2 separate regions of the Homo sapiens genome follow, and region 2 is linked to region 1. Evidence: fine-mapped expression QTL. Tissue or cell type: whole blood. Region 1 holds a variant in brackets; the other region holds the start of a gene. All regions are shown on one strand. Distances are from middle to middle.

Region 1 (8,106 bases):
AATTAGCCAGGTGTGGTGGCGCACACCTGTAATTCCAGCTACTCGGGAGGCTGAGGTGGGCGAATTGCTTGAACCTGGGAGACAGAGGCTGCAGTGAGCCGAGATCATGCCACTGCACTCCAGCCTGGGCAACAGACCGAGACTCCAACTCAAAAAAAAAAAAAAAAAACTTAGCAGGAGGAAAAAGTGAGCAGAAGAGCCAATAGTCTATTATAGAATCTTTCTGGCAATACCTAGTAACTGTGCAGTTGCCAAAGAGGGCAATGATGCTAGTTAATGAGAAAAAGGAAGAAGAAAGGGGGTGATGCACATTGCATTGAGTTTTGTAGATTTGATAAACCATGGGTTGGCTTTTTTTTTTTTTTTTTTGAGACAAAGTCTTTCTCTTTTGCCCAGGCTGGAGCACTGGAGTACAATGGTGCGATCTTGGCTCATTGCAACCTCTGCCTCCCGGGTTCAAGTGATTCTCCTGCCTCAGCCTCCTGAGTAGCTGGGATTACAGGCACGTGCCACCACGCCCAGCTAATTTTTGTATTTTTAGTAGAGACGGGGTTTCACCATGTTGGTCAGGCTGGCCTCGAACTCCTGACTTCGTGATCTGCCTGCCTTGGTCTCCCAAAGTGCTGGGATTACAGGCATGAGCCAATGCACCCAGCTCATGGGTTGGCATTTTAAGGAGGTGAAGTAGGTAAGACTCAGCAAGGAAAAAAAGATATACATTAGGACTTCTGGGAGCAACTAGACTCTGAATGTTGGTGAAAATATTTACTTCCCTCTGAACAAAATCCCCTTCTCAGTCATGCTTGTAATGCAGATAGCTCTAGGTTTCTTTTCTTAAAAACACACACACAAACTGATTTTATAAAAATATCCATATCCTTTCTCTTGAATAGAAGGTTTTAAGACCTGGAGCTATAGTGTGGGTAAGTCAATAGATGGCAAAAGAAGTATGGGGTGGTTCTGCCCCTGTTAGTAAGAGACTGCCTTTCATGGGCCTTCTGGGGCTCATTTACTTAGTCATTCTGCAGAGGACCAAAAGAAGCCAAAATCCAAAACAGGAGGTTATTCTTTCAATATAACAGTTCAACAAAGTTTGAAAGAATGAAGGTTCTCATCCTTGGGATTTTATTTTAGATTGCCCTACCTACCTAAGTATAATATTTTGACTTGAGGAATTATATTTTGACCAAGGCAAGAACTAAAAAAACAGAAAGAGAATCAACTCTTTTTGCAGAAAATGTAATTTTTCTATACTAAACTCACCCCGCACTAACTCTCTCTCCCTGTCTCTGTGTTTATGTGTGTGTGTATACACACACACACATATATATATACACATACATACATATTATATAAAGTCCTAATAAGCACATTTTTTAAAGCAAAATGTAAAAGAGAGCAAAACCAGCAAGATCTGTTAGGACTTTTTCTTAACTACTTAAACTTTATTAAAGGAATTTGCTCCTCCTTTGTTGACCATCTGCAAGATGCTATACCTGGGTTACATTTTCATTCTTGAATCCCACCCTTATGTAAGATCTAAAACTGGGGAAGAATGGCTCTCCAGAGGAAAATCTTGACACTTTTAGCATAAGAAGGGGTGCTGGGTTTTGGGAAGAGAGAAATAGAAATATTAACTACAGATAGCAAAAAAGAAAGACAAATTAATATTGATTAATTAGAAGAGCTGAGGAAATCTGGAATGAAAGATTACTCTGAAGTATTTAACCACCAGTAACAACAGACATTACTACCAGAATTAGAGAGCTGTGTAGTAAATTCAGTTCTTGTTTCCAGTCCTTATCCCTTTTCTTTTCTGTTTTAACATGCTCCTTATTTTGAAATATAATTAGAAGCTTACAGAAAAGTTGCTAGAATCTTACAAAGAAACATTCCTGTTTATCTTTTAGGAGATTCGCCAGGTTTTAACATTTTGCATCATTTGCTTTGTTACTCTCTCAGAAGATTCAGATTTTCAAAGAAGACATGGGTTTGGTTTGAGACCAACTAAGTTTGAGAGAATGGTGGAATGTCTAAGCAGAAAAGCTCGGCCGGGTGTGGTGGTTCACGCCTGTAATCCCAGCACTTTGGGAGGCCGAGGCAGGTGGATCACCTGAGGTCAGGGGTTCAAAACCAGTCTGGCCAACACGGTGAAACCCTGTCTCTACTAAAAATACAAAAATTAGCCAGATATGGTGGTGCGCCCCTGTAATCCCAGCTCCTCAGGAGGCTGAGGTGGGAAAATTTCTTGAACCTGGGAGGCAGAGGCTTCAGTGAGCCAAGATCATGCCACTGCACTCCAGCCTGGGCAACAGAGCAACACTCCATCTCAAAAAAAAAAAAAAAAAAAAAGGCTCAGCAGACTGAGAGTCAAGGATCTAGAACTCAAGAAAGAGACTACTTAGAAAGATAACAATTTGAAGAAAAAACTAAGTGGGACTAATTTGTTTGAGGACATGGATTTTGAGGAAAAGGCTAATTCTGAAAGGCAAAAGGTCTTAATTCTGGCCAATGAAAAGGCATGTGATTCTATTAATATATGAATTGTAACTTTTTCATATCTTGGTTCCCTTTAGGGTCATTTGCTATTATTCTTCTTTCACATTTGAAGACTACTTTGAAAATACATGAGGCTTATTGTATGGTTTTATCCAGGGGAAATTTATAAGAAATTGAGAGTATTGTCATTAATATGGCTTGTAGGTAACATATATGTCCCAGTTACCATTATTGTGTAACAAATTACCTGAAAACTTAGTGGCATAAAATGACCATTTTATTATGCTCACAGATTCTCTGGGTTAGGAATTCAGATTGGGTACAGTGGGTATGGATGATTGTCTTCACTCCACCATATCTGAAACCTCAGTCAGGAAGACTCAAAGGCTGTGGGTAATGCAACGATTGGGGGCTGGAATCACCTGGATATGACTTCACTCACTTATCTGGCAGATGATGCCGGCTTTTTTTTTTTAGATGGAATTTCGCTCTTATTGCCCAAGCTGGCGTACAATGGCACAATCTCGGCTCACTGCAACCTCCACCTCCCAGGTTCAAGTGAGTCTCCTGCCTCAGCCTCCCGAATAGTTGGGGTTACAGGCTTGCACCATCATGCCCGGCTAATTTTGTATTTTTAGTAGAAACAAGGTTTCACCATGTTAGCCAGGCTGGTCTCAA[A/G]CTCCTACCGTCAGGTAATCTGCCCGCCTTGGCCTCCCAAAGTGCTGGGATTACAGGCGTGAGCCACTGCACCCAGCAGCATGCTGGGTTTTAACCAGGACACCTATCATGTGGTCTCTGCATGGGTAAGTGCGGGCTTCCTTACAGCATACAGCTGAATTCCTGTATTGAGTGTCCTAAGACAGCAAGATGAAACATGGCATTTTTGTGATCTAGACTCAAAATTTATGTAACATCACTCTCCAGTACTCTTTTATTGAGACAGTCGCAAGTGTTTGCCCAAGTTTAAGGGGAAAAGACATAAACTCCACTTATCCATAAGACAAATGTTAAGGTCACATTATAAAAAGAGCACTTGGAATAGCAGATACTGTTTCAGCCACTTTGGGAAAATACAGTCTGCAATAAAACATATATGAACACATAAAGGGAGCATCTAACAGAGTGCAAAGAATAGGCATCTGAGAGTTATTTTTCACTGTCTATGGTGGTTGAAATTTAAAGTATTTCCTCAAAGACTAAGATATAAAGAAGAATTTTACATATCCCCTATGCCTTCTTTATTAGGAATTATTTTCCATAAATGTCTTGAAAGTGTAAGATTTGCAGTTTTTTTTTTATTTTTATTTTATTATTATTATTATTTTTGAGACAGAGTCTCACTCCATCACCCAGGTTGGAGTGCAGTGGCTTGATCTTGGCTCACTGCAACCTCCACATCCCACGTTCAAGCAATTCTCATGCCTTAGCCTCCCGAGTAGCTGGGATTACAGGTGCACACCACCACACCAGGCTAATTTTTCTACTTTTAGTAGAGGCAGGGTTTCATCATGTTGGCCAGGCTGGTCTCGAACTCCTGACCTCAAGTGATCCACCTGCCTCGGCCTCCCAAAGTGCTGGGATTACAGGTGTAAGCCACCATATCTGGCCGCAGTGTTTTGATTAACATTTTGGTCTTACATGTACAACTTAGTGCATTGCAATTCTTTAAACATCTCATCAGCAAATGAACAGCAGCTCACGAGGTGTCTAGAATTACAAAATCTACAGGAGTTTCTCATTTGGCCCAAAATTGAGGGTGCTGATCTAATAACTCGATCACTCACATCTCTTTAAAATAAAAGTTAATAGATTGCTTTAATAGAGAATTATTAATCATAGAAAAAATATTCAATCTGTCAGGTGTGCATTCTTTTTTATTAGCTCCCATTTCATTACGTAATTCAAAGGTTTGGAATATTGGAAATCAGCCTGCATCTTTGAAAGAAACCTTAAGACTTTTCTTTGTTACCGCAAGTATTTTTCTCTTTTCCTTTTTTTAAATATGAAAAGAGACTGAGGAAATGTCCTAATGTTTGGTTAATAAATTAAAAACCTATGTTTAAATGCTTTAATATCCTGATCCTATTTCACTGTGTCATCAGGGGTTGCTTTATCAGCTGTAAAATTACATAAGAAACCTTTTAAATGTAGACCTGTTAACAATATTTGAACTTCTGTGCATATACTGTGATCTTCTAATAATGACTACATCAATGGTGACAGCTCACTGTAGCTCACCAGCAACAGCTCTGCAATTGCTGATGTATTTTCAGAGATCAGAGAAGGTAACAAGGCTGGGCTTTTTCCGGCATTCAGTGATTGTTACTCATTCAGTATTTCAGATCTTTTCTAGCCTTCTCCAAATCCTTTTTTGCAAACCATATGAACAAAACATTACTCTTTTTTTTTTTTTTGAGACAAGGTCTCATCCTGTCACTCAGACTGGAGTGCAGTGGCGCGATCACAGCCCACTGTAGCCTCAACCTCCCCAGGCTCAAGTGACCCTCCCACCTTAGCCTCCCAAGTAGCTGGGACTACAGGCACATACCACCATGCCCGGCTAATTTTTGTAATTTTTTTTAGAGTCGGGGTTTTGCCATGTTGCCCAGGCTGATCTCGAACTCCTGGGCTCAAGTGATCAGCCTCGGCCTTCTAAAGTGCTAGGATTACAGGCGTGAGCTACAGCACCTGGCCAGAACACTACTTTTAAAAACCAAGAAACTGCTATATTTGAGTAGCCAATCAATTAAGAAGGCAGAGGAGATGTTGATTATATAGCAAGGACAGACCTAAGGGAAAGGAGTTTTGAAAGTTGAACATTTTTCATTTTAAAACATTAAGTTTGGCTGGGTGCTATGGCTTATGTCTGTAATCCCAGCAAATCACAAGAGAATCATTTGAGGCCAGGAGTTCGCGACCAGCTTGGGCTATGTAGTGAGATCCCATCTCCACCAAAAAAAAAAGAATTTTTTTTAAATTAGGGTGATATGGTGGTGTGCGCCTGTAGTCCCAGCTACCCAGGAGGCTGAGGTGGGAGGATCACTTGAGCCCGGGAATTTCAGAGTACAGTGAGCTGTGATAGCCCCACTGCACTCCAGCCTGAGTGATAGAGCAAGACCTTGTCTCTAAAACAAAACCCAAAAACAAAAAAACATTAAGTTTAATGGAATACATCTCAGTTAACAGTTATGTTAGATGAGGAGGCCTTAGCTCAGAGCAAATCCAGTTTTCTCTGTGTCTAGTCCTACCATAATTGAGCGATGGGGAAAGAAGTATAGAGCAATGTGTATAAGTTAGGGTTTGTTTGGCTACAGGTTTGAAAGCAATCAGAAACCAAAATACAGAACATTGGCTTGAAGTGCAGAAAAAAGTTTACTTCCAAACTGATATGGTGACTCCGTGGATCATCAGGGATCTGAGTGTTTTTCTCTCCCTCTTTTTTTCTCATTTCTTGTGTCATCTATGATTTTTAAAAATCATTTTTTATTTCAATAGGTTTTGGGGGAACAGGTGGTGTTTGGTTACATAGATAAGTTCTTTAGTGGTGATTTCTGAGATTTTGGTGCACCCATCACCCAAGCGGTGTACACTGTACCCAACATGTAGTCTTTTATTTCTCACCCCCCTTCCACTCTTTCCCCTGAGTCTCCAAAGTGCATTGTATTATTTTTATGCCTTAGCATCCTCATTGAGTGCTTCTCTCTTAATGTCTTACCTATTCTTCTTGGTACACAGCCTCATAGGTCAAGATGCTTCAGGTCCAGCTACTGTTTCTCTATTCTAGTGAGCAGGAAGGAGAAAGGGCAAAGAAAACATGCCGTCTACCCTTACAAACACTTCCCAGAAACTCAACTCAACAATTCAGTTAACATCTCATGGACTAGAATTTACTCAGAAGCCATATCCAGCAGCAAGGAAGGTTGGGAAATACAGTTTTTTTTTCCTGTGGCTGTGTTTCTAGCTAAAAATTCTATAACCAAATACTATGGTTTGAATGTTTTTGTTCCCCTCAAATTTATGTGCTGGAACCTTAATCCTCATTGCAACAGTGTTGAGAGGTGGGGCTGAATGGGAGGCATTTCAGTCATGAGGGCTCTACCCTTGTGTGTGGATTAATGCTGCTTTAAAAAAAGAGCTTGCAGGAGTGGGCTCTCTCTCTTCTGCTCTTCTGCTACGTGAGGAACAGTGTTCCCCCTCCTCTGGAGGATGCAGAGTTCAAGGTACCATCTTGGAGGCAGAGACCGGACCCTCACTAGATGCCTAAACTGCTGGCACCTTGATCTCAGACTTCTCAGCCTCCACAACTGTGAACAATAAATATCTGTTTGTTATAAATTCCCCAGTCTCAGGTATTCTGTTATAGCAGCACAAATGGACTAAGGCACTAAGGAAAAAGGGGAGCTAACATATAATATTCCCTGACACAAAATAAGTCTTTTAGGAAAGGAGAGATGATCTAGGAACCAATAAACTGTTGTGAAACAAATTTATATGATCCTTGGTTAGTCAGTGTGTGACCAAATAGCAAAATGATTTTAAACTTTATTCTACCCAAATGAACATCAAGAATTCAAGAATTAGATTTAAATGAGACAAAACATTATTTTTGATGTTATTAAGGGTGAAAGTGGCATTGTGGTGGTGTTAGAAAAATGCCCTTACTTTTTAAAGATTTATATTGAGGATAAAGGGGTGAAATGACATGATGTTTGGCATTTTCTTAAAATACGTCTACAGGCCAAGTGCAATGGCTCATGCCTGTAATCCCAGCACTTTGGAAGGCTGAGGCAGGAGATTCTCTTGAGCCCTGGAGTTCGAGACCAGCCTGAGCAACATAGTGGGACACTGTCTCCACAAAAAATTTAAAAATTAACCAGGCGTGGTGGCACACCTGTAGTCAGTCCAAGCTACTGGGGAGGCTGAGGTGGAAGGATTGCTTGAGCCCTGGAGGTTGAGACTGCAGTGAGCTGTGTTCAAGCCACTATATTCCAGCCTGAGTGAAAGAGCAAGACCTTCTCTCAAACAAACAAACAAACAAACAACCCCAAACAAAACAGAAACAAAAAACTTCTACAAAGAAAAAAGGGGGAAGATGAAAAAAATATAGTCAAAATCTTGATAATTGCTAATTTGGGGTTGGGGGCAGTGGCTCACACCTGTAATCCCCGCACTTTCAGAGGTCGAGATGGGCAGATCCCTCGAGTCCAAGAGTTCGAGACCAACCTGGGCAACATGGCAAAAATCTCATCTCTATAAAAAATACAAAAATTAGCTGGGCATGGTGGTGCATGCCTGTGTTCCCAGCTACTTGGGAGCCTGGGGTGGGAGGATCAGCTAAGCCCAGGAGGTCGAGGCTGCAGTGAGCTGTGGGATCATGCCACTGCACCCCATCCTGGGTGACAGAATGAGATCTGGTCTCAAAAAAAAATTTATTTTTTAAATTGGGGGTATGAGTACATGGGATTTACTGTACTATTATTTTTTATATGTTTGAAATGTTTCTTTTTCTTTTTTTTCTTTTTGAGACGGAGTCTCGCTCTGTCGCCCAGGCTGGAGTGCAGTGGTACGATCTTGGCTCACTGCAAGCATCGCCTCCCGGGTTCACGC
Region 2 (8,106 bases), 78 kb before region 1:
GAGATCTCATCTCAAAAAAATAAAAATTAATTAATTTTAAAAAACCAAACAAAACTGAGAGTCATGAAATTGCATGCCGGTACTTTAAACCATTTTGACACAAACTGCAAAGTATCAAAGCCCCCTCAAAAATAGGAAAATAAAACAAGTAAGAGTTACACAAAAATTATAAATTTAGACAAGGTCTGTAGTATAAAATGTAACAAAAAATAACCTGACAAGGTCCATTCCTAATAGTGCTTCTTCATCACAAACTTCTTCTCTTCCCCATACAGCTTCATTCCCAATGCAAACTCCATGCTCATTGGCTCCCATTTCTGCCCCCCACAACCACGCTGGGCGACTCAGGACAACAGCATATGTTTCAGGAACTTGATCAATTTCTATATATGTACACTGTAAAAAAAAAAAAAAAAAAGTCATAGCAAGAACCACAAAACCAGAAAAGTTATCAAAATCCAGAATTTAAAAAAATCAGTCAGAAGACAAAACTGTTATGAAAGAGGTAAAGGAAATATAAGTAAATTGAAATTTTCAATAATAAAGGCATTACCCTTAAAACATATTCAGAATAACCCTAAAATATTTATTCATTCAAATATTTGCTGAGCATTTCCTATTATAAAACATTCTGCCAAGAGATATGTTAGTTACAAAGATGAATCAGATAAAGATCTCACTTTTGAGAAACTAAAACTTCTACATTAAGATAAAATAAAGTATAAAGTATTAGGGTCATGAAGTGAAGACAAGGTGCTATTGGAGCTCAGGAGAAAGATGGTCTCTAGCTGTAATATCTTGAAACATTTTTGTAGATGTGTGAGTTGAAGCTTAAGGAAGTAGTTCTCAACCTCAATATCCAGTGTTTCTTGATTAGTGATATAATTACTCACATGGTAGCCTTCGAATACAAGAGTTTTGTCATAGGAATCTCACATCACATTTTGAAGTCAACCATTAGGTATGCCCACAGCAATGAAAAGAATGAGAACCACTGGTTTACAGGACAGGCTATATTTAAATATGAAGAAATAAAGTGGAAGTGGTATCACAGATGAATAAGTGGTCTTAGCAAAAGAAAAAAATATGGCATAGGATACAGAAAAAAGTCTAATATTTAATATGTTTTAATATTAGAATATCAATAAAATAAAATCTAAAAAGTATGAATTAGCAACAATAGCATAATTTGAAGCTCTCATTTTAAGTTCCACATTAAATGGGTTTTTAAAATAAGTTTTTAAAGGATCCTTTAATTAATGTGTATACTACCAAGTGACTGCATAAAATGTATATTGATAGTGTTAACATAGGGCCTAATAAACCTTTTTTGATGTGTCATAAAACTGTCATTCCTAAAGTCTGGGATGACTTTCCTATTCTACATCAAGTAGAACCTAAGCCAATTCAGAATCAGAATCCTTTTTGTCCATCAAATTCCAGCTAACTCCAAGCTGAATTAAATGTTCATTCTCTTCCGCTGCCACAGCATGCTACTGTTACTTAAATTTAGCATTTAAACCATCCTATTTTATAATGGGGTATAATGCATACACATCTTATTGCTATACTAGACTCTAAGCTCCTGGAACAGAGTCTTGACAGCTGACTTTAAATCTCTTGCCCTATCTAACATGCTTGCATATGGAAAGCATTCAAATATTTATTCAAACAATGGATAATTTTATTATTGTTATTTCAACGTCCTCCGAATCACTGAAATAAAAGATCACAGTTTATTTCTGACTCATTTATTTTTCAAATGTAAACTCCTCAATTTTAACTTCTACAGTTTCTTCCAAATTGCTATGTATAGAAATAACTTTATGATATTTTTAAAAGGCATATTGCTAACAAAACATTTATTTCACCTACCTTAAGACGTTCTCCCAGGTTATCATGAACTACAGCAGGAAAATAAACCACCTCTTGTACTTCATCATAGAGTCTATCTGAATTTTTTCCAAAAATAATCCTGTTATCGACTGTTGCTGGAGGTAATGCCACGAAAGTGTCACAGGAAAAAGGTTCCATTTTTTTTAACTAAAAATTATACAGATGTTTTAAAATAAAAAGAACACTTTTAAGTATATAAAAATAAAGAGTTTTACTCAATGACCAAAGGATATTATTGCCATATCTAATTAAGGATGTTCATTAAAGCTTTGATTTTTTTATTTTTATTTTTTGGAGACAAGGTCTAGCTCTTTCACCCAGGCTGGAGTGCAGTTGTATGATCAGGGCTTACTGCAGCCTGGAACTCCTGGGCTCAGGAGATCCTCCCCCTTCTGCCTCCCAAAGCCCTGGGATTACAGGCATGAGTGACCGTGCTTGGCTGTTCATTAAAGTTTTAAATTTTGTATACTACAGCCTAAAAATCAGTAAGAATATGACTTGGGACTCAATCTGGTACTACAACTCAGTAAGAAAATGGCAATGAGAACTACCTTCTTCTACTGTATAGTTCACATTTATTCTCTAAGACCTTTCTCTCCTAAAGTCTTCCCTGAATTTCGTTTCACCATTTCCATATTTGGGAATCCGTGTACCTAGCTCTATTGTTGTAAAGGCTAGATTCCATTACATTCGTGTATATATAAATCCCTTTACTGGACAATGAGATCCTTGAGGGCTGGGAGTATGTCTTACTAATCTTTATATTCTCTTTGCTGGAACTTGTCTTATGGAAAAAAATCTTACGTGCCCAGTACTTCCTCAAAGGAAGGAAGAAGGGGTCTTATTTGAGCTGGGAAATAATACACATTATAATTCTGATGAGACTGAAATTTTGAAACAGACTCATTGATTCAGACAAAAATATGTCAATATAATTCCAAATTGCTGATATTTCTAGGAGAAAGTTCACATATTTAATTTATAAATCGCAATTATATACTTTAATATCTAGATTACCTCTTCAGTTGTAACTTGGAAAATCTTAGATCTTCACTTATAATAGAACACCTAAAGGTCCTTATTTTGCTGCCAGAACAGACACATTGTTTTACAGAGTTTCCTTCTTTCCTTTAATAATGGCAAAACCTTAAAATGGCTTTACACAGGCAGATGCTAGCAACTTAAAAACAAAATTTAAATATAATAAATGTTTCCTTAAAAAGAAAAGAAAATGACTAAATAAAAACTTCAGACTGAAACTCTTAAGGGTTTTCCTCTTCTCCTCAGTGACGAGAAGTCTGATGTCTTGATGGCTTCTGTTATTTTCTTTCTGTATTTCAACTCTTATGTCCTGGATCTCCTTCTATTTGTGTTTTATAGTTAGTTCTATCACTATATAACTTTGGCAGACTATTTAATCTCTCTCTTACCTATGCCTTCTGCCTCATCAGAAAAATAAGACACTATTTGATGGGCTGTTATGAGAACTTAATAAGGCAACACGTAAAGTGTTTTGCACAGTGCATAGAACATAGTAGATACTCACATGAAAGCTGTTATTGTTATTATTTGGTAGGAGAGAAAATTTCTCATAAAGGCTTATTCGTTTTTTGTTTTTTTTTTTTGATGGAGTTTAACTCTTGTTGCCCGGGCTGGAGTGCAATGGAGCAGTCTTGGCTCACTGCAACCTCCGCCTCCCGCGTTCAAGTGATTCTCCTGCCTCAACCTCCCGAGTAGCTGGGATTACAGGCGCGTGCCACCACACCCGGCTAATTTTTCGTGTTTTTAGTAGAGACGGGGTTTCACCATGTTGGCCAGGCTGGTCTTGAACTCCTGACCTCAGGTGATCCACCCACCTTGGCCTCCCAAAGTGCTGGGATTACAGGCGTGAGCTACCGCGCCCGGCCAAGGTTTATTCTTAACATTACCCTGATAGAGAACTTGGTTGGTGGATCACCTGCTGCAGTAGCAGCCACGTCCACTCAAAAACCTGGAGTCCCAAGGGCCATCAAGCTGCAATAGTAACCTGAGCTGCCTAACTGGGGTCGTAGGGAAAGCTAAGGAAACTTGCCCCCTGGTTAGAATTGCACCTAGCCCACTGAGGAGGTGAAGCCTTGAGAGATTTTACCAACTCCTAACGCGTATTCGTCATTCAATAAGTATTTATTGAACGTCTTTCGGCGCCAGTACCGTACAGCTGGGTACAAAATAGACAGGGCCTCCGTTCTTGCAGAGCTGTCTGTCATTCTATTTCACGCGCTCTTAGTTCAGCCGGCGCTTTCAGAAACATCATATTGTTGGATTCTCGCAAGCATACTACGGTTAGGGCCGGAATTATTATCTTCATAACATAGATGAGAAAAACAGTGCAGAAAAGCTTTTGCAGCTCGAGTCAGAGTCCACAGAAAGTAATGGGCTCGAGCTTCAAGCACCTTTGGTCGAAGGGCCGCCGCGGTCCACCCCGCACCCCGGCCCTGGGCGCTCAAACCGCAGCCGGTGCAGCTGGGCTCCGGAGCCCCTCGGTCAAGCAGTGCCGCGCCACAGTTGGGTCTTCCGGGTTTCTGTCTCAACTATGCACGCCCCTCCCCCGTGCGCGCCCCTCACCTGGCCTCCCAGCTACCCGAAGTGACAGGTGGACGGAGGGAGGAGTGGCCAGTGGAGGCATCAGTTGCCGGAAGCTGTCACCTTTGATCTCGGAAGTTCCCCCTTGCTGCTGGAAACGCAGTTCCGGTTAGGCGGCTGAGTTTGTTTACGTTGCTAACAGATCTAGCCCCTGCTTTCCCTAGTTCCAGTTCCAAGATGGGGAAATCCTTCGCCAACTTCATGTGCAAGAAAGACTTTCATCCTGCCTCCAAATCCAATATCAAAAAAGTGAGTAAACAGACCCGGGGAGGGATTAGGCCCACAGGGACCGCCTTCCCAGAGGCTGCTGGAAGTGAAAGTGATGGTGTCTCTGAGATCCCTAGGACAGCCTCCGCTTCTCTAGGCCTAAAGCCCTGGTGGTCTCGCCTTTCTCTGCTGAGCAGCTCGCTGACGCAGCGGGTCCTCAGCGTTTATTCTGCAACAGCGAGGAGACCGGTGGCCTAGAGAATCTTTGTCGGCCAGAATGCAAATCCATAATATGCGAAGACTAATGTCAAAATTCCTCAGTACTTCCTTCAGCTGATTCTGGTTTTTTGTCTTTTCGGATCCCAGGGATCACGGCTTCTGAACTCTACTTTTCTGTACAAAGAAGCCTCCCCGTTTACTTAAGATAGATCTTTAAAAAAATTACCTAATAATCTAGTGTCTTTTTGATGACTAAACTCGTTGAAGTTTAGTGTTTTACATAATTACAGGTCTACCAGTTGTAATACTTTGGTGAATATCATAGTAATGAAAAGCAAAAGAGTGAAGTAGAAAGAATCAGCTTTGGAGTCAAACCTGGATTCTAGTTATTCGAGCAGTCACTTTTAGCCTTAAGACCTTGCACAAAATATTTGTAATATCTGACCCTCAGTCTTCTAATCTGTAAATTAAGGATGATTGACTTAATTGTGAGGATTAAGTGAAATAGTGAAGATAAAGGATTTGAAACAACGTAGGCATCTATCACTGTGTCCACTACAGAGAGGAGGTGCTCAATAAAATGTTGATTGCCCCTACATAGAAACTTGTGAAAATAACTAAGCTTTTATTTGTTTTTAGAACGAGTTGAGGTGATGAGATACTGCTATATACTCTCACTTCTAGACCAGTGATTCTCAACTTTTTTTTCACTGTTACCTTCCTAAGGAGTCTTATTAAACATTTTTTCTTAATAACTCCCCCATGAAATTTTAATAACACAGATACACCTTGAAAGCTCTTTGGTAATCATCCAGCCCCATCTCCTCATTTTATAAATGAGGAAACAAATTTGCCAAGAGTTACACAGCTAGTTAAATGTTGTACCAGAACTAGGATCTGGAACACCTGATTAACCCAGTGATTTTTTTTCCACTGCACCAGTTTGTGTTTGTGTGGTTGCAACTGTGGGAGGGAGAGGTTTCTTGTATTTGGTTGGCTCAATAACTTTTGACACCAAACACAGACATTTCCTTTCTCTGCATACTTAGGGGGTCAGCTGTTACTATTTTTACAAGAATGAAGAGATTAGATGGAATTCAGGTGCTTGCTTATTTGCTGTTTATATTTAGAGACAAATATACCTGAGAAATCATAATTTTTTACTGGAACTTTTGACATTTCGCTTTATAAATTTCAATGTATCAGCTTTCTTACAAGAAAAAAGAAATCCACAGAGAATAACTTTTGCAAGTCCGCTATGAGAAATTCAGTAAAGCAGTTATAGGCTTAGAACCTACATTCTTCTCATCTGTGTAAAGTGTTATGTAAAATGTACCAAATATTGTTGGCCTCTTTGATCTGTTTTATACTTTTCCCAGGATAGAGGAGAAGAATGAAATGTTTTTGATTAGCAGACCTTTCTAGATAGTTAACACTTTATGGGGAGAGGGGGTGACCTCTAGCATTCTTTATTAACTAAGGATAAAGGAACTATATTAAATGAAGATAAATAGAAAAATTTATTAGGGTAGGAGGAAACTTTTGGAGGTGATGGATATGTTTATAGTGTAGATTGTGATGATGGTTTCACAGGGATATACTTGTCACCAAACTCAGGTTGTATACATTAAATATGTACAGCTTTTTATATGTCATACTCCAGTAAAGTTTTTTTTTTTTTTTAATAGAAGTGGAAGAAACAAAGGAGTTTGATCAAAGAGTGCAAAAGAGTTCCACCATGAAAATTTTAAGGGCCAGGTATGGTGGCTCATACCTATAATTCCAGCACTTTGAGAGGCCAGGAATTCAAGACCAGCATAGGCAACAAAGTGAGACCCCATCTATATTTAAAAAGAAAGAAAGAAAATTCTAATTGTAAAATTAGGCATGTTGGGTTTATTAAAGTCCAGTAGGTTCTTTTTTTCCTTGTTTGTTTTCAGTTTCCCAAGCTTATAAAAAGTCCAGTAGGTTTTAAGGTCTCATTTGTTCACCAAAAATAAGAGTGAATGCTGTATATCTGCTGGTCACTCTGTTGTGTATTGTTATGCGCTGCCTCAATCATTTATGTCACAGGATACACTGTTTTGTTCAGCTGTTCTTTTTTTTTCTTGATTTTGTTAATGAAGGAAGCAGTTAATTTACATTGTGGTCCAAGCTCTTTAGTCTTCTTGTGGACTGGCAAACAGTTCATAAACTGGCTATTGACAATTGCATCACTGTAAACTCCCTTTTTTGTGAAACTCTCTGTTCCCTTAGCTGTAATAACTACTCTCTTCTAGTTTTCCAGCTCTCTTATTAGACTGTTCTTTTCCCATCAACTTCACTGGATCTTTATTCTTAGCCTGCTCCTAAAATATAAGTGTTCCCCAGAGTTTCATCCTTGGCCCACTTCTTGCTTACTTAGTATGCTTGCCCCAAGCAATCACATCCAACTAGCCTGTTTTAACTAGCCTGTTTACTCATGACTCAAATCTGCAGTCCCAGTTTTCTCTTCTTAACTTTGATGTGGCTCAAGACAGCTATCTACTAGACATTTGCATCTTGATGTCCTATAGGCACCTCAAACTCAACATATCTGATATAAAAGTTTTTTACCCCAAATCAGCCCTTTTTATACTTGCTATCTCATATGGGTAGAAATATAGATAGTAAAACAGTCCCTCATCCTGTTGCCCAAACCAGAAGCTCAGGATTCATCCCTTTTCCCATCACTCCTTTATCTAGTCAATCACTGAATGCTATTGGTCTTACCTTCCAAATATCTCTTGAATCCATCTTTCCTTTCTGTCACTGCTGCTTGTGTCTTAATTCAGACCCTCATCATCTTTCACCTATATTGTTGCATTTCCTAAGTGGTTCTACTGCCTCCAATCTTGAGTCCTCTCAAATCCATTCACTACACAGCCATCAGAATAGTCATTTTTCATTTTAACAGCTCTGCTGAGATAAATTTACATATCATACAAACACCCATGTAAAATGTACAATTTAGTGGTTTTTAAAATGTATTCATGGAGTTAAGTAATCATTACCACAAACAATTTTAGAACTTTGTCATCACCCCAAAAAGAAACCCCCGCTGGGCATGGTGGCTCACACCTGTAATCTCTGCACTTTGGGTGGCTGAGGTGGGTGGATCACCCGAGGTCAGGAATTCAAGAC

Evidence for each region. PIP is the estimated chance that this variant, and not a neighbour inherited with it, causes the effect.
Region 2: CIRSR starts here. The variant in region 1 is fine-mapped to the expression of CIRSR in whole blood (TOPMed, PIP 0.98).

Annotation. Positions count from the first base shown.
Region 1 is chr2:174,313,869-174,321,974 of GRCh38, reverse strand. No RefSeq gene overlaps it. Among named protein-coding and RNA genes, the nearest start is that of LINC01305, 8.1 kb to the left of the region's middle. The variant A/G (reference allele first, on the strand shown) is at 3,178.
Region 2 is chr2:174,392,212-174,400,317 of GRCh38, reverse strand. It overlaps CIRSR (corepressor of RBPJ and splicing regulator), which reads left to right and starts at 4,606. Exons shown (of 10, transcript NM_004882.4): 1 at 4,606-4,767. The coding sequence starts at 4,696. SCRN3 (secernin 3) reads right to left here and starts at 4,588. Exons shown (of 8, transcript NM_024583.5): 1 at 4,501-4,588; 2 at 1,876-2,043; 3 at 215-396. The coding sequence starts at 2,034. RefSeq lists enhancers at 3,660-4,160, 4,658-4,707 and a silencer at 8,094-8,106.